2 linked regions of the Homo sapiens genome follow. The protein of the gene in region 1 binds, or shares a complex with, the protein of each later gene. Each region holds a gene or a part of one and is shown in the gene's direction. Other genes may lie near its edges.

Region 1 (9,951 bases):
CACACACACACCACATGCAACACACAACACACACATACCACACGTGCGCCACACATACATGCCATATACACCACAAACATAACCCCCCACACACACCACACATGCCACAATGACACATACCACACACACACTAGAGAGGCTCTGCTCCTGCTGGAGAAGACTTGAAGTCTCCTCAAAGGAACAGATGCTCCATTCAGGAGCACAGGTCAAAGGCTGTGCCTTCCCTTCTCTCCCCAAGGTGAAAGGCCCTGCTTGTCATCTTAGGAAGCAGAAACCAGCACTGTGCCTGGCAGAGGGTGATGAGTGGTGATTTTGCTCCTGCCACTGGTGCTGCCCTGGGGATGGGGTAGAGGTGGGCACAGCTATGAGGCAGGCTGGGGTGAGGACCCCAGAAACCCCTCACATCACACATCCCATTTTCCAGGCCCTTTTTTCTTCCCTAGTTTTGTACCTGAGGGTGATGTTTCTCTAGAAGAGATGCAGCCCTCAGTCATGATAAATCCTGAAATTTTTTTTTTTTTTTTTTTTTTTTGAGACGGGGTCTCTCAATCTGTTGCCCAGGCTGGAGGGCAATGGCTTCATCACGGCTGACTGCAGCCTCAACCTCCCTGGGCTCAGGTGATCCTCCCACCTCTTCCTCCTGAATACCTTGGACCACAGGCATGTGTCACCATGCTTGGCTAATTTTCTTATTTTTTGTAGAGATGGGTTTTCAGCATGTTGCTCAGGCTGGCCTCAAATTCCTAGGTTCAAGTGATCCTCTTGCCTGGGCCACCCAAAGTGCTAGGATTACAGGTACCAGTCACTGGGCCCACCCCTGAAGGTCTTTGATGGGGGTGAAGACTCAGGCACTTCAAGAAGCAGACCTCAGGCCAGGCGCAGTGGCTCATGCCTATAATCCCAGCATTTAGGGAGGCCAAGGTGGGCAGATCACCTGAGGTCAGGAGTTCAAGACCAGCCTGGACAACATGGAGAAATCTCATCTCTATTAAAAATATAAAAATCAGCTGGGCATGGTGGCAGGTGCCTGTAATCCCAGCTACTCAAAAGCTGACACAGGAAATTTCCTGAACCCAGGAAGCAGAGGTTGCAGTGAGCTGAGATCACACCAATGCACTACAGCCTTGGCAACAGAGCGAGACTCTGCCTCAAAAAAAAAAAAGCAGACCTGTAGGGAACAGGAGGATCAACCAACTGAGATACCACAAGAAGATAGGTTCTGGCTGGGCACAGTGGCTCACACCTATAATTCTAGCACTTTGGTAGGCCAAAGCAGGAGGATTGCTTGAGCCCAGGAATTCAAGACCAGCCGGGACAACAGAGTGAGATCCCTGTCTCTACAAAAAATTTAAAAATTGGCTGGGCATGGTGACACATGCCTCTGCCTGTGGTCCCGGCTACTCGAGAGGCTAAGGCAGGAGGATCACTTAGGCCCAGGAAGTTGAGACCGAAGTGAGCTGTGATTGTGACTCTGCACTCCAGCCTGGGTGACCGAGTGAGACCCTGTCTCAAAAATAAATAAATAAATAAAGGAAAAGAAAAAAGGTTATCTGCTCAGACATGTAAGCTGGCCTTGTGGCCAAGGCAGAGAGACTCTCATGGCCTATCTCAGAACAGCCACCTAATGACCATCAAAACCTTGACACACTGGCGGGGTGCAATGGCTCATGCCTGTAATCCCAGCATTTTGGGAAGCTGAAGGAAGAAGACTGTTTGAGGCTAGAGTTCAAGACTTGGCCAACATAGGGAGACTCCATCTCTACAAAAAGTTTTTAAAATTAGTTGAGCATGGTAGTGTGTGCCTGTGGTCCCACCTACTCAGGAGGCTGGGGCAGGAGGATCCCTTGAGCCCAGGAGGTGGAGGCTGCAGTGAGCCATGATGGCACACTCTAGCCTGGGTGACAGAGTGAGTGAGACTTTGTCTAAAAAAAAAAAAAAAAACCCAAAAACAAACAAAAAACAACCTTGACACATTCCTCTACACCCCAGTGTCCCCCTTTTCTGTTGTTTAATTTTTTAAAAACTGTCTCTGGCGGTCAGGCGCAGTGGCTCACACCTGTAATCCGAGCACCTTGGGAGGCTGAGGCAGGCAGATCACCTGAGGTCAGGAGTTCGAGACCAGCCTGGCCCATTAATGTAGTGAAGCCCTGTCTCTACTAAAAATACAAAAAATTAGCCAGGCGTGGTGGCACACACCTGTAATCCCAGCTACATGGGAGGCTGAGGCAGGAAAATCGCTTGTGCCAGCAGGTGGAGGTTGCAGTGAGCTGAGGTGGTGCCACTGCACTTCATCCTGGGTGACAGAGCAAGACTCTCAAAAAAAAAAAAAAAAATTTTATCTGGCCTGCTTAATGCTTAAGTGTTTGAACATCCCCACCATTTTTTTTTTTTGTGGCACTCAAGAGGCCATCCCTTCCACCTCCATACTAGTCAGTCTGATTTTTTCCACATCCCTTCTACTCAAGCATCAAAGACTGAGAAAAATGAGTCATAAAAGAACAGATGTTCTAGGGTTTCAACGTTTATTCCTGGCATGACTAAGAGGACGGAAGAGCCTGCTGACCTCATCCTACAGCTATACAGGGACTCCCAGGCCTTGCCCCAAGACGTACCCTTATGTTTTCTGACTGTAGTAGGTGGGGGCAGACTCTACCTTCAGAAGGAACTACAAGATGTTTCTTTGTTTTGAGATGGAGTCTGGCACTGTCGCCTAGGCTCACTGCAACCTCTGCCTCCTGGGTTCAAGTGATTCTCCTGCCTCGGCTACCCAAGTATCTGGCATTACAGGTGCCCTCCACCATGCCCAGCTAATCTTTGTATTTTAGTAGAGACGGGATTTCACCACGTTGGCCAGGCTGGTCTCGAACTCCTGTCCTCAGGTGATCCACCCACCTCAGCCTCCCAAAGTGCTGGGATTACAGGTGTGAGCCATTGCACCCGGCCAGGAAATACAAGATGTTAATGAAAGAATTTGAGAACATGAGCGAGGTGGCTCATGGCCATAATCCCAGCGCTTTGGGAGGCCTGGGTGGGCGGATCACCTGAGGTCAGGAGTTTGAGACCAGCCTGGCCAACATGGTGAAACCCCGTCTCTACTAAAAATACAAAAACTAGCCAGGCCTGGTGGCGAGCACCTGTAATCTCAGCTACTCAGGAGGCTGAGGCTAGAGAAGCAGGCTGAGGCTCTTGAAGCCAGGAAGCAGAGGTTGCAGTGAGCCGAGATCACGCCATTGCACTCGAGCCTGGGCGACAAGCACGCAGGAAGTCAGGGGACCTAGCCAGGATACACTGCCTTTTCCATCAACTGGCTGTGTGTCCTTAACCTCCCTGGTGGAGCCACTTAACCTCTTTGGTACTTCCGTAATGTGAATGAGGAGGATAGATGGATATAAGGCCCCTTACTGCTCTAAGAATCTATGGGATTGGATTTCAGTTCAGCATCCATTTCCAGGTTTGCGCTCATCTTTCCAATGAGAGACACCTGGGCAGGTAGAGCAAAGAGCAATTCTCTGGCTGCTGGTATAGTAGACCTAAGGCTTGAGCAAGTGCCTGATACAAGAAGAAAAGGAATTGCCCCTTTTTCTTGGCAGCCAGGACAGAGACCCAGTGCCCAACCTGCTTATACCTCCAACCCTGCCCATCCATCGCCTGACAGACAGGAGTGCAGGACAAGTTCTCGCCCCTCATTGCCCTCCCTACCTTTCCAGTTCTGGCAGTTCCTTGCAGGCTCTCCCCACCTTGGGTTTCCTCCCAGCCCCGTCTCTGAGGGCAGCACCTTCCCACATCCTGACGCAGGTCAGTGTAGCTGTGAAGGAGGCAGAGGAGTGAGTGTCTGAGACACGAGTGATCCAGGTCCTTCAAGCTGCAGAGTACATCCCTCACACACATACTCAAGATTCCTCCAGATGGTTGTCCTAGAGAAGGTGGCGATGTGATTTCCCAGGTTCTCCGTGAAGTAGTCAAGTATTCAAACTCCTCTATGCCCTTCTTCCTCTTACCCCTTCATTCCCTCTATTTCTCCTGCCTCTCTCATTGCCATTCTTTCTTACATTATTTTGCTTCCTTCCTCAGTTCTCCAGGATCTTCACCTATTTGTTTATTTTGAGATAGCGTATGACTTGTCACCCAGACTGCAGTGCAGTGGAATGTCATGGCTCTCTGCAGCCTCGACCTCCTGGGCTCAAATAATCCTCTCACCTCAGCCTCCTAAGTAGCTGGGACCACAGGTGCATGCCACCACACTCAGCTTTTTTTTTTTTTTTTTTTTTTTTTTTTGAGACAAGTTATCACTCTGTTGCCCAGGCTAGAGTGTGGAGTGTGGTGGTGGAGTGTGGTGGTGATCTCAGCTCACTGCAGCCTCGACCTCCCAGGCTCAAGTGATCCTTCCACTTCAGCCTCTCCCCGAGTAGCTGAGACTACAAGTGCACACCACCACACCTGCCTAATATTCTGTATTTTTAGTAGAGACAGGGTTTTGCCATGTTGCCCAGGCTGGTCTCGAACTCCTGGGATCAAGCAATCTGCCCGCCTTGCCCTCCCAAAGTGCTGGGGTTACAAGCCTGAGCCACTATGCTTTGCCGAAGATTCCCGTCTTCCCACTGAACCTTCTTCTTTCCTTCTCCTGGGCCATTCCTGAGCCCTGGCTGAGGGGAGAGAAGGGAAGGAAAGCCCCTCCTGCGGCCATCTCAGCATCCAAGGCAATCCTTCTGGGGCTGCTCTGTCTCCAGGGCCCCAGCCATCCCCAGACACTGAGTGCCTGAGGGGGGACCCTCACTCCTGTGGCACTATGGTAAGATAGGAAACAGTGGCTTCTCCTCAAAGCAGCCTCGCCGGTCGGTCAGCTGACTACCAACATGGGAAGTGGCCGAAGATCCACATGGAATGACACTGATAAGCACTTTGCAGTGTCTGAAACTCTTAAACATCAGTGCTGTCTTCCTAGTTTTACAGACACAACTCTGTGGGTTGGATGAGGTTTTTCTAAATGTACAAATGCAGAAATATACGGAGGGAGTAAAGGGACTGCCTACAAATCACATCTAGAGTGTGGTGTACCTGATTTCAAGTCTTTTATTTTATTCTCGCAGCAACGGGAGAATCCGCAGTCGAGGGAGGTGAAATGACTTGCTGAACGCCACACGGCGGACTCCAAGCCCCGAGCTCCTATAACAGAGGAGGAGGAAGGCGGGCTCAGCTCCTGCCACCCAGCAGCGGGGGAGATGCAGCCCGGGACTAGGCTGGGCCATGGGGACAGATCCAGGCCCCGCCCCCTGACCTTGTTCTCTGCCCGCCGGGAAGTGGGGAACTTGCGGGGAGCAGCCTCAGCTAGTCCCTGGGGCAGAGTCTCCACTTGGGTGCACGCCCTGGGGTGGGGCTTCTTCGGGAAGCCGGGGGCCTTCAACTCTGCTCAGGAGCTCGGGCCGGAGAAAGGCCCCGAGACTTGAAGCCCTTGCCCGGGAGGGATGAACACGCAAAGGAACCCGAGGAACGGGGTAGGGGACCAAGAGTAGGACCAGCTTCTCCTGCGCGGGGACAGGGCCTGTGGAGCGGCCTGGAGGAATCTCTCCCAGCCGCGAAGCCCGGGAAGGCTGCGAGGCCCCAGCGCGGAGCGGCCCCTCCCACCTCCCCGAGGGCAGGCGGAGCGAAGCCTCGGGGCCCGGGCCCAGGTTTTGTGCCTACGGAGGCTGGACTTCCCCGCCACCCCGAGGAGTCACCGAGAGCCTTCTCTCCCTCGCAGGGGCCCTGGGAGGCCCGCGCTTTCTCTGAAAGTGGAAGGAGTGGGCGGGGGGCGCGGCCGAGGCGGGGCGCGGGCGTGCAGCGGCGCAGGCTCCGCCCCGGGGCCGTCTCCAGCCGGGGGCGCCGAGCCGCTCCAGTCCCCGGCGCGCCGCGGGCTGGTGGGCTCAGCGGCGGCGCCGGCACTGGGAAATGACCCTGCCCGGGGGCCCAACGGGCATGGCGCGGCCGGGGGGCGCGAGGCCCTGCAGCCCGGGGCTGGAGCGGGCCCCGCGCCGGAGTGTCGGGGAGCTGCGCCTGCTCTTCGAGGCGCGCTGTGCGGCGGTCGCTGCGGCCGCCGCCGCGGGGGAGCCCCGGGCCCGCGGGGCCAAGCGGCGTGGGGGACAGGTCCCCAACGGGCTTCCGCGGGCTCCCCCGGCCCCGGTGATCCCTCAGCTGACCGTGACAGCCGAGGAGCCCGACGTGCCCCCGACCAGCCCTGGGCCGCCGGAGCGGGAGAGGGACTGCCTCCCGGCAGCGGGCTCTTCGCACCTGCAGCAGCCGCGCCGCCTTTCCACCTCGTCGGTCTCCTCCACTGGCTCCTCGTCGCTGCTCGAGGACTCGGAGGACGACCTGCTGAGCGACAGTGAGAGCCGGAGCCGCGGCAACGTGCAGCTGGAAGCGGGCGAGGACGTGGGTCAGGTACGGGCCGCGGGGGCGGGGCCAGCGCCGGGCGCGGGGGCTGCACGGGGGACCTGGCTGGGTGCTCCCGGAGGACCCGCTCCTGTCCATGCTCCCTCCAGCGGAAGGTCCTGTTCTCGCGGTTTAGGAGGAATCTGGGGGTCAGAGGGAGGCGCCTGGCCGACCTCTCGCCTGGGCAACTTTCACCTCGGCTCCGCCGGCGGGTCGTGGCGCTGGCCCTGGGGCGTCTAAGAAGCGGGGCGAGGAGCAGGCGACCCGCCGCGGGGACTGGGCGAAGCGGGGGTAGCGGACCTTGTTGGCTGTGGGTTAGGACAGGAGGGATCGGAGGGGCTGAGCCTTGCCGGGTGAACCCTCGGAAGGAGAGAGGCGAAGGAGAGTTTCCCTTACCCCCCGCCCCCTCTCCGGTGCCGCGGCCGCACCCCCGCCGTTGCCACGGTTTCCCTCTCCTGAGTGGGAGTGGAGCGGCGCTCCAGGCTCTGCTCGGGAGCCGCTGCCGTCTGCTCCCAGCGCCCGCACGAGGCGTGGACGCAGGGGAGGGAGGGGCGTGGGCCTGGGAGCTCTGGCTGGGAGCGGAACGCAGCCCACCCAGTGCGCGCCCTGCCTCCCATCTTCCCGGCTCGCCGCTCCTGAGCGCGGCAGAGAGGGGCGGTAAACTGAGGCTGCAAGGGGGCAGGATCACTCTGCTAGTCTCTGCCTCTGATAGCCTGGGTGTTCTGGGACCAGGTCTGACCCTCGGAAAACACAGCCCTGGGCACTGTTAAGTCATTCCTGACGCCCGCCACTTAGGGATGTGCGGCTCCCGGGACACCCTCCTTGTTCCCCTCGTTTTAACCAAGGCCAAATACCTTGAATAACTGTCCGTGGTCAGCGCGAAGGACTTTCTTTAGATCCACGTTTCGCAAGTGTCCCTGAGGCCGAGGAAGAGGCGAGGGGCGCCCCCGGCCTCGGGCGTCTGGGGCCTGCCCATAAGTCCGGGTCGGCGCGGCGGGGCGGGGAGAGCTGTGGCCGCGCGCCTGCTCCGCCGCACAATCGGCTGGGACAAGGCAGGGAAGCTGTGGCGACCTGCAGGGGTTCACAAGCCCGGAGGCCGATGGGGTTTGTCAGTGACACCAGAGGGGAAAAGCCTCACAGAGCAGGAACACCCCCCGCCGCCAGGTGCTGGGTGCGCCGGCTCGGTCACTAGCCTGCCGCTTCCCCTTCTTCCCCGGTGGTCAGAGCAGCCCCGGACCCAGGATCGTTTCTGGGGTAACCCTTGCCTAGGTCGGGGGGCGGATGCCGGGGCTTCCCAGGATGTGGAGTGTGGGGCAGTGAGAGGCCCCCCGCCCCGCCTCTTCGGAAAAGCCTGAGCAGCAGCTCCCGGGGCGCGGAAGCTCTGACACCTGAGAGCCGGTGCAGGCGAAAGGGCGCGAAGCGCGGGCGCGTCCCGCTTCCCTCTTCCGCCCGCAGGGACTCGGCGAAGTGCCTGGGAGAGGGAGTGCGCTAGGAGGAGGTCCTGCGGCCCAAGCCTGGGTGTAGAGACCGCCCCGGCTAAGGTCAAGCCTCGGGGACCTGGGCGACCCCGCCGCCCTCCGAGCCGTCGGGAGCCGGTGCAAATCGCCGCTGAGGGCCCTTCCAGCTCCAAGGCTGCGGCTTCCAGGCCTTCCCCACCCCCAGGCCCGCCGGGGCCTCCCCGAAGTCAAACAGCCACAGCGGCGGCAGATAAGCCAGGGGCTGTTGACAGAGGCTGCCTGAGTCCGTGTGGAAGGGCCCAGGGCGGACTTTGCCTCGCCGCAGGTCCCAGAGCCGCACAGCGCGCCGGCCCAGGCCAATTTAGGGCTTCCCCAGGCAGGAAGCAAGGCTGGTCCGGCTGACCGTGAAGGATGCACGTGGGCCGGACTCTAGGACTCCCGGCTTACCAGCCCCTTACGCGCGGCCCAGGCAGGCCGGAGCCCAGGAAGTTTCTGCCTGCCTGCCTGCCTACCTCTCTGCCTGGGGCATACGTAGTCCCCTTCACCTCCTAGGAGCCCTCTCCAGCCTGCCCAGAGCAGGGAAATTGAAACTGGGCAGCCTCACTCCGGCAGAGGAAAAAGTCACAGGCAGGCTTTTCCTAACCAGCCAGGGGAGAAGTTGGAGGCCCACCCGCAAGGTCAGCTGCATGACTCTATGGCCTTGCCTGCCTCCTCAAACAATTGTGGGGTATTGCTGGAGGAAAAGAGAGGGTGTTTGGCTCCTGTTCATCTGGTTTTCTTCTTTCTGTGCTCCAGGATAGGTAAGGAGACCTGGATGCCATCCCCTCCTGGACTCAGAATTCCCACACATCGCTTTCCACTAATTATAGAGCAGAATTTAGGTTAACAGACTTCCTTTTTAAACAGCTAATGCCCATGGGAAGGTGAAGTCGTGGGTCACTTATACCTTAGTGCAAATCGTTTTATAAATTTAAACTGATTGCTCTTCCCACCACCACGACCACAGGGAGTGCTAGTTTGATAGGGCAATTGGAACATGGGGAGGGTATTGGGCTGGTAGAGAGCTTCAACCAGAGCCTGGATGACTGGAGGCAGGGAGCAAGGGTGAGTGCCAAAGACAGAGCACTCACCCACCTGCTGGTCTGCTCCAGCAGAAGATACACTGTGTATCTGGCATGAGCAGGTGTCTTCAAGGCTTCCGAATGGAGCTTAGACAAAGGAGGGTCTGAGGCTAGTATCCAGCCAAGCCCTGCCCAGAGAGAGGTACTCCCTGTTCAGCCCTAGGAGTGAGGAATTATCAGAGGGCCCTCCTGTGACTTCATTAAAGTCTCTCACACAGTCAGCAATCCTAGCCTTTGCCTCAAGATACCCAGGTAGCCTCTGGCTGTGTGTTAGTCTCCCAGAGAGGGCACCTTCATGGAGGGAGGCCCGAGCCAGAGGATGTTCAAGCTTCTCCCGGGTTCAAGCGATTCTCCTGCCTCAGCCTCCCGAGTAGCTGGGATTACAGGCACCTACCACCACACCGGCTAAGTTTTGTATTTTTAATAGAGATGGGGTTTCACCATGTTGGCCAGGCTGCTCTCGAACTCCTGACCTCAAGTGATGCATCTGCCTTGGCCTCCCAAAGTGCTGAGATTACAGGTGTCAGCCACCGCGCCTGGGCTTACATTCATTTTTAAAAGCGTGATGTTCTCTGGGGGAGGTATCTCCCTAAGGTGGAAGGTGGCAGTGATTTGAGTTCCATGACACTTGCACAACTCCTGCCATGCTTGGCCATACCCATTACTGGCAGGGGGGCTAAATCCTGTCATAGCAACCTCAGGTGGTAGGACGGAGGACTCAGATGAGATAATAGGTATGAAAATCTTTTGTAGGCTGGGAGCAGTGGCTCACACTTGTAATCCCAGCACTTTGGGAGTCCAAGGCGGGAGGATCACTTGAACCCCGGAGTTCGAGGCCAGCCTGGGCAACATAGCAAAATCCTGTCTCTACTAAAAATACAAAAAAAATGTCACGGTGGCTCACACTTGCAATCCCAGCACTTTAGGAGGCCATGGCAGGTAGATCACTTGAGGCCAGGAGTTTGAGA
Region 2 (9,440 bases), on another chromosome or scaffold:
ACATAGTAATCATTGAATATTCCTTGAATAAATTTTATTCTCAATGAGTGTGTAACACAAAAAAGTTCTAGAGCACTACTATCCTAAGATTTCTGCCTACTCTCCAAGTCCCTTCCTCCCAAATTTGGTATATTTCAGTGTTTACCTTTGAGATGAAGGCAATTTTTTAATCTGGTAAATTGTAATTGTTGGTGGCTGGGCATGGTGGCGCATGTCTAATCCCAACACTTTGGGAGGCTGAGGCAGTGGGATTGCTTGAGCCCAGGAGTTCAAGACCAGTCTGGGCAACACAGCAAGACCCTGTCTCAAAGAAAAGAAAAAAAAATTTTTTTTTTTTTTTTTTTAGTTGTAAGTGCTGGTGACCGCTAACATCCTTGTGTAGATGAAGTTACTAAATTTTTTTTTTTTTTTTTTTTTTTTTTTTTTTTTTTGAGACGGAGCTTCACTCTCTTGCCCAGGCTGGAGTGCAGTAGCATGATCTTGGCTCACTGCAACCTTTGCTGTCCAACTTCAAGCAATTCTCCTGGCTCAGTCTCCCAAGTAGCTGGGATTACAGGCGTGCACCACCACACCCGGCTAGTTTTTGTATTTTTAGGAGAGATGGGGTTTCACCATGTTGGCCAGGCTGGTCTTGAACTGCTGACGTCAGGTGATCCGCTTACCTTGACCTCCCAAAGTGTTGGGATTACAGGCATGAGCCACTGCTCCCGGCCTAAAATTTTTTATATTACTTGGTCGTATAAAGCATTCCAGTCTAGTATGACATCACTAACAATTTCATTTTGTTGATAACTCTGCCATGATGTCATTAGTTGTTGCTGTTTGACTTTTGGAAGACTGATAGGAAAAATGTACAGTATTTTTTCCTTAAGAAGTCTGTACCTAAACTTTCATTAAATTTTCAAGGTCCAAATTTGTTTGAGAAAAATATTAATATTACTCAATGTATAGCAACAACTGCATGAAGCGCCAAAAGAGTTCCAGTACATGATCTTTAAGGGATTATTAAGTTCAGAATTTTGTGAAGAAATAGAAGTTAATAAACAGTCATTTGATTTGTTTTGTAATTGTCTTGTGATAACCTATTTTAATAAAATTTTTAAAACATGTTATTTTAATAAAATTATATGTTTAGGTAATAAACTAATTAGGGAAGGGCCTTGGGGTTGCTAATGAACAAATAAAACTTGAGTAATAGATTTTTCTGAAAGTTTCAGTTTGGTCAGCTAAAATGGATTTTGGTAGGTTCCTTATATCTATCAATTATGTAGAAGATAGCTGTTCTGTGGCATTCAGGACCTGTTCTCTTTATTGTGTGTTTAGGTTTTGACTCTTGGATTTAATTTCAGGTCATTCCTGGGAGTTACAGTTTAGAATTATATGCTTCTATACATAAAGATTACGCTAGTTCTGAAGTACAGGAAAACTGTAAAGGCAGGTGAATTAAAATTTTACTTTGGGGTTTATTATTTTGAGTTTTTACAGGTATTTTTTACTCTTTAGTATAAAAATACAAGTAAAAATTTGGAATAAACCTTGACCTTTAAAAGAAATGTTATTTGTTCCTTTCTTGAATGAATAACAAATGGTATTAGCATAGATACGGTTTTATTTTCTGCATTTTACTTATTCTAGCAAACATTTTAAGTGTTATTAGATTTTTAAATTTCTCGAAAGTTATACATAGTCTTACACTATGCATCTTCCAGTATTTAGCTTTTTGTTAAATCATGTAATAGAAAGGTGATTACTGCTAATTAAACATTGGGAATTTATGCACCTAATGGTGGTGTTAAAAGATACCCATAGCAGAGAATGTAATATAAACAAATACCTCAAAGTCCTTTAATTTTCTTGTAACCTAAATTAGGTGAAAGGTGCAATGTGTCTGAACTCCAATATATGTATTTCTAGATATTTCTACATTCTGTTTAAAAACAGTAAAATTGAAATGTCTTTATCAATTGTGCTATTTGTAGGTGGAGACTCCCTGATCTATTTTTGTCATTAGGTTGATCTAGGTTAGCACTGTATACTATCTTCATAAAATCAATTAGTGTGGTATGAACCTTCTGATTGGTATTAGATGAGTTCCTCTATAAACCAGTAATATTTAAATAAGAAAGAATGCAGTTAGGAGGCAATTGTAATAGCCCTGGCAAAGGACGATGGAGCCTTGAACCAAAATACTGGTTGTAGAGATGGAGGAAAAATCAGGCAGTATTTAAATGATAGAATTCGAGACCTGTTGACAGATTTCAGACTGAAAGAGTTAAAAGTGGCTCTTGGGCTTTTGCTAGTACCTTTAGGGTTGCCTGGGAGTATAGAATTCATTTTCATATGTTTTGCTTGTCATCAGCCAGGGGAGCTATATCCTGTAGACAGCCAGAAATAAAGACATTTATTGAGCGAGATGGGTAGACTAAAGATATCTTCGTTGTAAGTGGGTATAGATGAAGTGGCCAAGGAGTGGAAAAAAAGGATAAAATTGGTCACATCTAGACATAAGAGACAGGAGTAAGAGCCTTTGGCAGTATATGGTAGGAGGAAAATCAAAGTACTGTTACGAAGGCCAAGAAAAATTTTGAGAGTTTTTCCATGCAGTTTTGGATGCTGCAAAAAAATGAGATAGTCTTTATCTTGACATTTATTAAGTATGTATTTGTTGGACATAGTTCTAAGTGTTTGACACATACTAATTTTTTTATGGGGGGTGACCAGGTGAATACCCCTTGTGGGCATGGTATACTGTGTCACCCCACTTACTGGGCACATTTATGTCATTTCACAGAAATGAGGAAGCTGAGGCAGAAAAGGTTTAGTAGCTTGTCCATATTGCATTGCCAGAAGAAGAAACAGAGCTAGGAAATTCTAACCCAGTAGTCAAGTTACAAAGTCTCATTTTAGTTTCTATGCCATATGGCTTCACATTGAAGCATGCTTGATGGATTGGGTGACTGACTAGTAGTCATTGGTAAACTCAGCATTTTCAGGTGATGAGTTGGAGCTGGATGTCATTTTAAAATAGTGGATTGTTTGGAGAGAGGAAATTGGTATGAGTAGTAGTGCCTTCCAAAATTTGGGGAGGGATAAGGGCAAGCATTTAAAATATAACTAAGGTTTCAATTTAGTTTTAGGCTAAGCGATGTGAAGATATTTATGTGGTAATGGGCAAATTAGTGGAAGAATAGTTGAGTCCAGGGAAGAGGTAATACGGAATGAAACTGGAAGGTGTACGCGAATTGGAGTTAGGGATAAGCAGGCAGGGAATAAATTGGCCTTGGACCGTAAAGAAGGTACACCATTTCTTACACATGTGTCACATAAATTTTCAAATGTATGGCTATGTTGGGAAAGCTTAATGGCCCAATGAACTTGGAAACTTTTTGTATTCATTTGCTGATAGGGTCTAATATTTTCTGGGAAATGACTTACTTGGAAAATACTAGCTTTATTATTTACTGATTGGTATAACTTTGCAGTATCAAAGTTAGTCTGTTTTAGTTTCTTTCTTTCTTTTTTTTTTTTTGAGACAAGTCTCACTCTGTTGCCCAAGCTGGAGTGCAGTGGTGTGATCTCGGCTCACTGCAACCTCCGCCTCTCGGGTTCAAGCAGTTCTGCTGCTGCAGCCTCCCCAGTAGCTGGGACTACAGGCGCACGCCGCCACACCCAGCTTGTGTGTGTGTTTGTGTTTTAATAGAGACGGGGGACTACAGGCCCACGCTGCCACACCCAGCGTGTGTGTGTGTGTGTGTGTGTGTGTGTGTGTGTGTGTGTTTTAGTAGAGACGGGGGACTACAGGCACACGCCGCCACACCCAGCTTGTGTGTGTGTGTGTTTTAGTAGAGACGGGGTTTCTTTTCTTTTTCTTCTTTTTTTTTTTTTTTGAGACGGAGTCTCGCTCTGTCGCCCAGGCTGGAGTGCAGTGGCGCAATATCAGCTCACTGCAAGCTCTGCCTCCCAGGTTCACGCCATTCTCCTGCCTCAGCCTCCCGAGTAGCTGGGACTATAGGCGCCCGCCACCACGCCCGGCTAATTTTTTTGTATTTTTAGTAGAGATGGGGTTTCACCGTGTTAGCCAGGATGGTCTCGATCTCCTGACCTCATGATCCACCCGCCTCAGCCTCCCAAAGTGCTGGGATTACAGGCTTGAGCCACCGCGCCCGGCCTGAGACGGGGTTTCACCCTGTTGTTCAGGCTGGTCTGGAACTCACCCTGAGCTCAGGCAGTCTGCCCACCTTGGCCTCCCAAAGTGCTAGGATTACAGGTGTGAGCCACTGCACCTGGCTTGTTTTAGTTTATCTGTAAATGGTGAATGAAGCCAGGTAGTCTGGAGTGTTGCACCAGCAGGAGGTTTCCATGTAATCTAGTGATGTATTAGAAGGAACATATAGCCGGGCACAGTGGCTCATGCCCTGTAATCCCAGCACTTTGGGAGGCAGAGACAGGCGGATCACCTGAGGTTGGGAGTTCGAGGCCAGCCTGACCAACGTGGAGAAACCCCATCTCTACTAAAAATAGAAAATTAGCTGGGCGTGGTGGTGCATGCCTGTAATTCCAGCTACTCGGGAGGCTGAGGCAGGAGAATTGCTTGATCCTGGGAGGAGGAGGTTGCGGTGGGCTGAGATTGCACCATTGCACTCCAGCCTGGACAACAAGAGCGAAAGTCCATCTCAAAAAAAAAAACAACAGCAGGAAGGAACATACTATCACAACAAGATGTTGAGGAATAATCAGTTTCACTATATAAGGTTGGGGTTTTAATATTCCAAAGAAAGCTCAAAATGATCTTTGTTCTCAGTGACATGCATTTAGCTAAAACTGGACATTTATATCTTGATCAGCCCATTGTTATAGACTCTTTATATAGTCCCTTCTCCTGCCTTACTAGAAAGGGAAAGTAGCCTGTTTTAATTTAGTAGGTGATTGATTTAGACATAGTGGCTAACTCTAAACACAGTATACAGAAACAGTTTAATTACTCTGTAGAAATACGTATTTGGGTACCAGTAGTCTTATTTTTGTTTTGTGAGTGTAGGTTAGGTCTGTAATTTTGAATTATGTTCCACAGAGCAGCTTCAGTGACAGAGGAGCCAGTCATTTGGGGATTTGGTTCTTTTCCTCTGTAAACCTAGGATAATTTTACTTAGGTCAGCATGAAAGTACAGTGGTATGATTGGTCAAAGATATATTTGAAATATTATCATAAGGTATCATAAAGATTGGTTAATCTTTAGGAGTCAAAGTCACATTTCAATTGCTACCTCCATTGGTATTTTTCCGTTAAAAGTTTTTGGGTTTTTCTGAGACGTGGGGTCTTACAGTTTGGCCAGGCTGAAGTGCAGTGGCTGTTCACTGGCACGATCCCACCACTGAGTAGGCTTTAAGAGTTAATACGTTTCATTTAGGTTACATTTTATTATTAATCTGTGTATTTGGATTGTGGTCTTTCTTTCAAACAGAATTCAAAGAAGCTTTTTCACTATTTGACAAAGATGGTGATGGAACTATAACAACAAAGGAATTGGGAACTGTAATGAGATCTCTTGGGCAGAATCCCACAGAAGCAGAGTTACAGGACATGATTAATGAAGTAGATGCTGATGGTAAGTCTTCAATTTTGTGGGGCTGGGAGGGGTTGAAGAAGTGATACTTAGATGTTTCCACTAAACCTTTGCTGTTTGCTTATATGTTTCCACTAAAGCTTTGATGTTTCCACTAAACCATTTCAGGTAATGGCACAATTGACTTCCCTGAATTTCTGACAATGATGGCAAGAAAAATGAAAGACACAGACAGTGAAGAAGAAATTAGAGAAGCATTCCGTGTGTTTGATAAGGTACGTCAAGGACTGGATATGTTAAATTTTGAGGATGAAATGAAGATACCAGGACTCATTATGAAGACTTGTGTTTTTTTGGTTGTTTTTTTTTTTTTTTTTTTTTTTTTTTTTGATGATTTACCAACATATTTTAATTACCAAGCAAAAGCTTTTTAAGAATTCAGTATAGACTTTCTAATATATGTATTGCGTTCATCTTGTCAAAGGAGGTGTCACTTGACTTTGGGACTAGGAAATAATGATTTCAATGTAGGACATTTTGCTTGGCTCTTAATGACATTTGTAGGTCAACTGTGTAGATTTGTATGCATTTCTAAAGTATGTTTTTCCCCCAATGTGAAATTTAGTAGTAAACTTAATAAATTTCCATTCCAACTCTCAAGTCTGTAATTTGACTCAGAAACTATACTAAATTTTTTGCTAGGATGGCAATGGCTATATTAGTGCTGCAGAACTTCGCCATGTGATGACAAACCTTGGAGAGAAGTTAACAGATGAAGAAGTTGATGAAATGATCAGGGAAGCAGATATTGATGGTGATGGTCAAGTAAACTATGAAGGTAAATGTTTCAGTCTCACGCCTCATTCTTCACTTTGATTTTTAAGATAAGAGGCTCTTTGTTAGGGAACTGATCGAAATTAGTGACCCTTCCCCTGAAATTAGGTTGCTAAAACAGTTACTTACATTTAACCTTCTTAAAATTCAGAGTGTTGTCTGCAGACTAGGTAACATTGCTCTGACTTGAGAACTTAATTTAGAAATATTTACTATCAGGTTCTATCCCTACACCTGGAATCAGCATTTTAATAGGATTCTTGGGTGATTCATGTATAAAGTTTGAGAAGCACTGTTCAGTGTTTGTGTGATTGTGGAACAATGTGGAAAGCAAACTTATTCCAAGTTTCCTAAAATGAAATTAATGTGACTTTCTTTCCCCGCACTGTATTGTCTTTTTTCTTTAATTGGCTTTAGTCTGAAACTGAAGTTTACATGTGCTTCAAAAGTATCGTATCTACTAACTTTTAAGATGGCCATATCAGGAAGCAAGGCATATGAAACTGAAGGATTTTGAGTAAAACTCTGTATTTTTTTCATGATGTAACTACTTAACTTAGAAAAGAGCATAAAATGTAATGTTATAAAAATTAAACCTAGCCCATAGCATTGAATTTACAATATTGTCTTGTAATCCAGCAGACTTAAAATTCAAGTCTAAACTAAGAGCCAAGAATGCTCTTTTTTATATTGGCCTATCTAAAGCGTTAATTTGGCTCTTACTAATAAACCTGAATAGTTATGGTTAATGAAGTTCCAGCCTGGGCAATAAACTAGCTTCCCTCTGTACTTAATGGTAATTCTGAGGAAAGAGAGGAATGGAAAGAGTACTCAGTAATTGAGTAAATGTGATTTTTTTTTTTTTTTTTTTTTTTTGGTCTTTTGCTATTGACTCATTTTTTGTGTACTTCTTCTTTTTCAGAGTTTGTACAAATGATGACAGCAAAGTGAAGACCTTGTACAGAATGTGTTAAATTTCTTGTACAAAATTGTTTATTTGCCTTTTCTTTGTTTGTAACTTATCTGTAAAAGGTTTCTCCCTACTGTCAAAAAAATATGCATGTATAGTAATTAGGACTTCATTCCTCCATGTTTTCTTCCCTTATCTTACTGTCATTGTCCTAAAACCTTATTTTAGAAAATTGATCAAGTAACATGTTGCATGTGGCTTACTCTGGATATATCTAAGCCCTTCTGCACATCTAAACTTAGATGGAGTTGGTCAAATGAGGGAACATCTGGGTTATGCCTTTTTTAAAGTAGTTTTCTTTAGGAACTGTCAGCATGTTGTTGTTGAAGTGTGGAGTTGTAACTCTGCGTGGACTATGGACAGTCAACAATATGTACTTAAAAGTTGCACTATTGCAAAACGGGTGTATTATCCAGGTACTCGTACACTATTTTTTTGTACTGCTGGTCCTGTACCAGAAACATTTTCTTTTATTGTTACTTGCTTTTTAAACTTTGTTTAGCCACTTAAAATCTGCTTATGGCACAATTTGCCTCAAAATCCATTCCAAGTTGTATATTTGTTTTCCAATAAAAAAATTACAATTTACCCAATGGTTGCTCTGCATCTGAGTCATTTAACTGTTGAAGTCTAATAATTTTGAAAATAAAATATGGCATTGGTTTCTGCTTGGTATAGTCTAGATAATTTTTTCTCGTGTGGGGAAGCATATGGAGATGGGTGGCAGAAATAGTGAAGGTGGGAAAGGAAGGAGAAAAGGATTGGAAAAGTGAGAAAAGAGGGAGAGAAGCACAGAAAATAAGAGGAACAAAATAAGGGGTGTAACTAAGGAGAGATTGAAGAGGAAGGCCGAAAAGATGGGGATCTATGGGGGCTGGCTTAGTGTAGTCACCTTTTGGGGGCCACCATCATGCGTGCCCACAACATTCCTCCACCACCATGTGTGTCGTACTGTGCTACTGTGTTAGATCCAGGATACCTGTGAGTTGCCTCTGCCCACAGAACAAGATGGTGGCAGTCATGGGAAAAGAGGGGCAAGTTTTTTGTTTTGTTTCTTTATCCAGATTGTATTTGACAACTTCAAAAGGCCCCAATGAAAGACTCAAAAACTTAAGTGTACCTAGTATGGGAATTGGCATAAAGTAGGTATTTACTGTTTCCTACCTTTATAGTTTTCAACTTTGGCATTTGTCCATGTTGACTTAAGCTGTGCAGTGATGTTTTAAATGTTTGCATGTTCAAAAAAAAACCAAATCTAGTTGGGGTGAGCATCCTTATAGTTTTACTTCTATTAACTAATATTTTATTCATTGTGCTTTTTAATTCTATAAGATGAGAATTTTCAGCTTGCCCATCTGCAACATTTTGCAAAAAAAGATGTCTTTAGGAGTAAATTGGCAATGACTACACCTTGTTTTAGTTTTTGCTGGCTTCTATCATTGCTTTCTCTATAATTTGAGCTACTCCAAAGGTGGTTATCAGGGTTTTTATTTTTTTAAAGTACCTTTTAAATGCTTAATGAAAGATTCCATAGCAAACCAGAGCCAAGATTAAAACATTGAGTGTAATTGTTACCTGGTTATTATAGCTACAAGGTCTTTAATTTCCCAGGGGTAATTCATTATTTGGCAGGTTACTGCCCCATTGACTATCTTAATACTACTATTAGTATGTTTTAGAGCAAGGGAAGTTACAGGCATTGATAGTTCTAATGGTATCACATACTCGGGTAATCAGTTAAATAGGAAGATTTTAGATGTGCACTCTACTCCCCTTAATTGGATGTAGTAAATTTTGTCGAAAGGAAATCCAAACAAGGTTTGTTTTTTGTAAAGACAGGGACTCATGTTGCCCAGGTTGGTCTTGAACTCCTGGGCTCAAGTGATCCCCTCACCTCATCCTCCCAAAGTGTTGGGATTATGAGTGGGGCTTTTTTAAAAGTTAAGTGAAATAATGAAAGTAAGGCCCTTAACATTGTCCTTGGCATTTGCATTAAGTGTTCCATTAATTGTGCTATTAAACCAGTTATGACCCTGAAAAATGAGGGACTTAGGCAGTCAATTTGTGTTTTT

Evidence for each region.
Region 2: the proteins of ITPKA (region 1) and CALM2 are in contact, whole or in part, in a crystal structure (PDB 4UPU), measured with the Homo sapiens proteins. Residues at the interface, in NP_002211.1 of Homo sapiens: Asn165, His166, Trp167, Gln168, Lys169, Ile170, Arg171, Thr172, Met173, Val174, Asn175, Leu176, Pro177, Val178, Ile179, Ser180, Pro181, Phe182, Lys183; in NP_001734.1 of Homo sapiens: Glu12, Phe13 (codon at 5,465), Glu15 (codon at 5,471), Ala16 (codon at 5,474), Leu19 (codon at 5,483), Phe20 (codon at 5,486), Ile28 (codon at 5,510), Leu33 (codon at 5,525), Val36 (codon at 5,534), Met37 (codon at 5,537), Leu40 (codon at 5,546), Gln42 (codon at 5,552), Met52 (codon at 5,582), Glu55 (codon at 5,591), Val56 (codon at 5,594), Phe69 (codon at 5,759), Met72 (codon at 5,768), Met73 (codon at 5,771), Lys76 (codon at 5,780), Met77 (codon at 5,783), Lys78 (codon at 5,786), Thr80 (codon at 5,792), Asp81 (codon at 5,795), Glu85 (codon at 5,807), Glu88 (codon at 5,816), Ala89 (codon at 5,819), Arg91 (codon at 5,825), Val92 (codon at 5,828), Phe93 (codon at 5,831), Leu106 (codon at 6,297).

Annotation. Positions count from the first base shown.
Region 1 is NC_000015.10:41,488,003-41,497,953, forward strand, and holds the start of ITPKA (inositol-trisphosphate 3-kinase A), read left to right. Parts: upstream 1-5,871; 5' UTR 5,872-5,925; coding exon 5,926-6,414; intron 6,415-9,951. UniProt on the Homo sapiens protein: Catalyzes the phosphorylation of 1D-myo-inositol 1,4,5-trisphosphate (InsP3) into 1D-myo-inositol 1,3,4,5-tetrakisphosphate and participates to the regulation of calcium homeostasis.
Region 2 is NC_000002.12:47,158,685-47,168,124, reverse strand, and holds the end of CALM2 (calmodulin-2), read left to right. Parts: intron 1-5,462; coding exon 5,463-5,606; intron 5,607-5,732; coding exon 5,733-5,839; intron 5,840-6,266; coding exon 6,267-6,402; intron 6,403-7,320; coding exon 7,321-7,349; 3' UTR 7,350-8,041; downstream 8,042-9,440. UniProt on the Homo sapiens protein: Calmodulin acts as part of a calcium signal transduction pathway by mediating the control of a large number of enzymes, ion channels, aquaporins and other proteins through calcium-binding. Calcium-binding is required for the activation of calmodulin.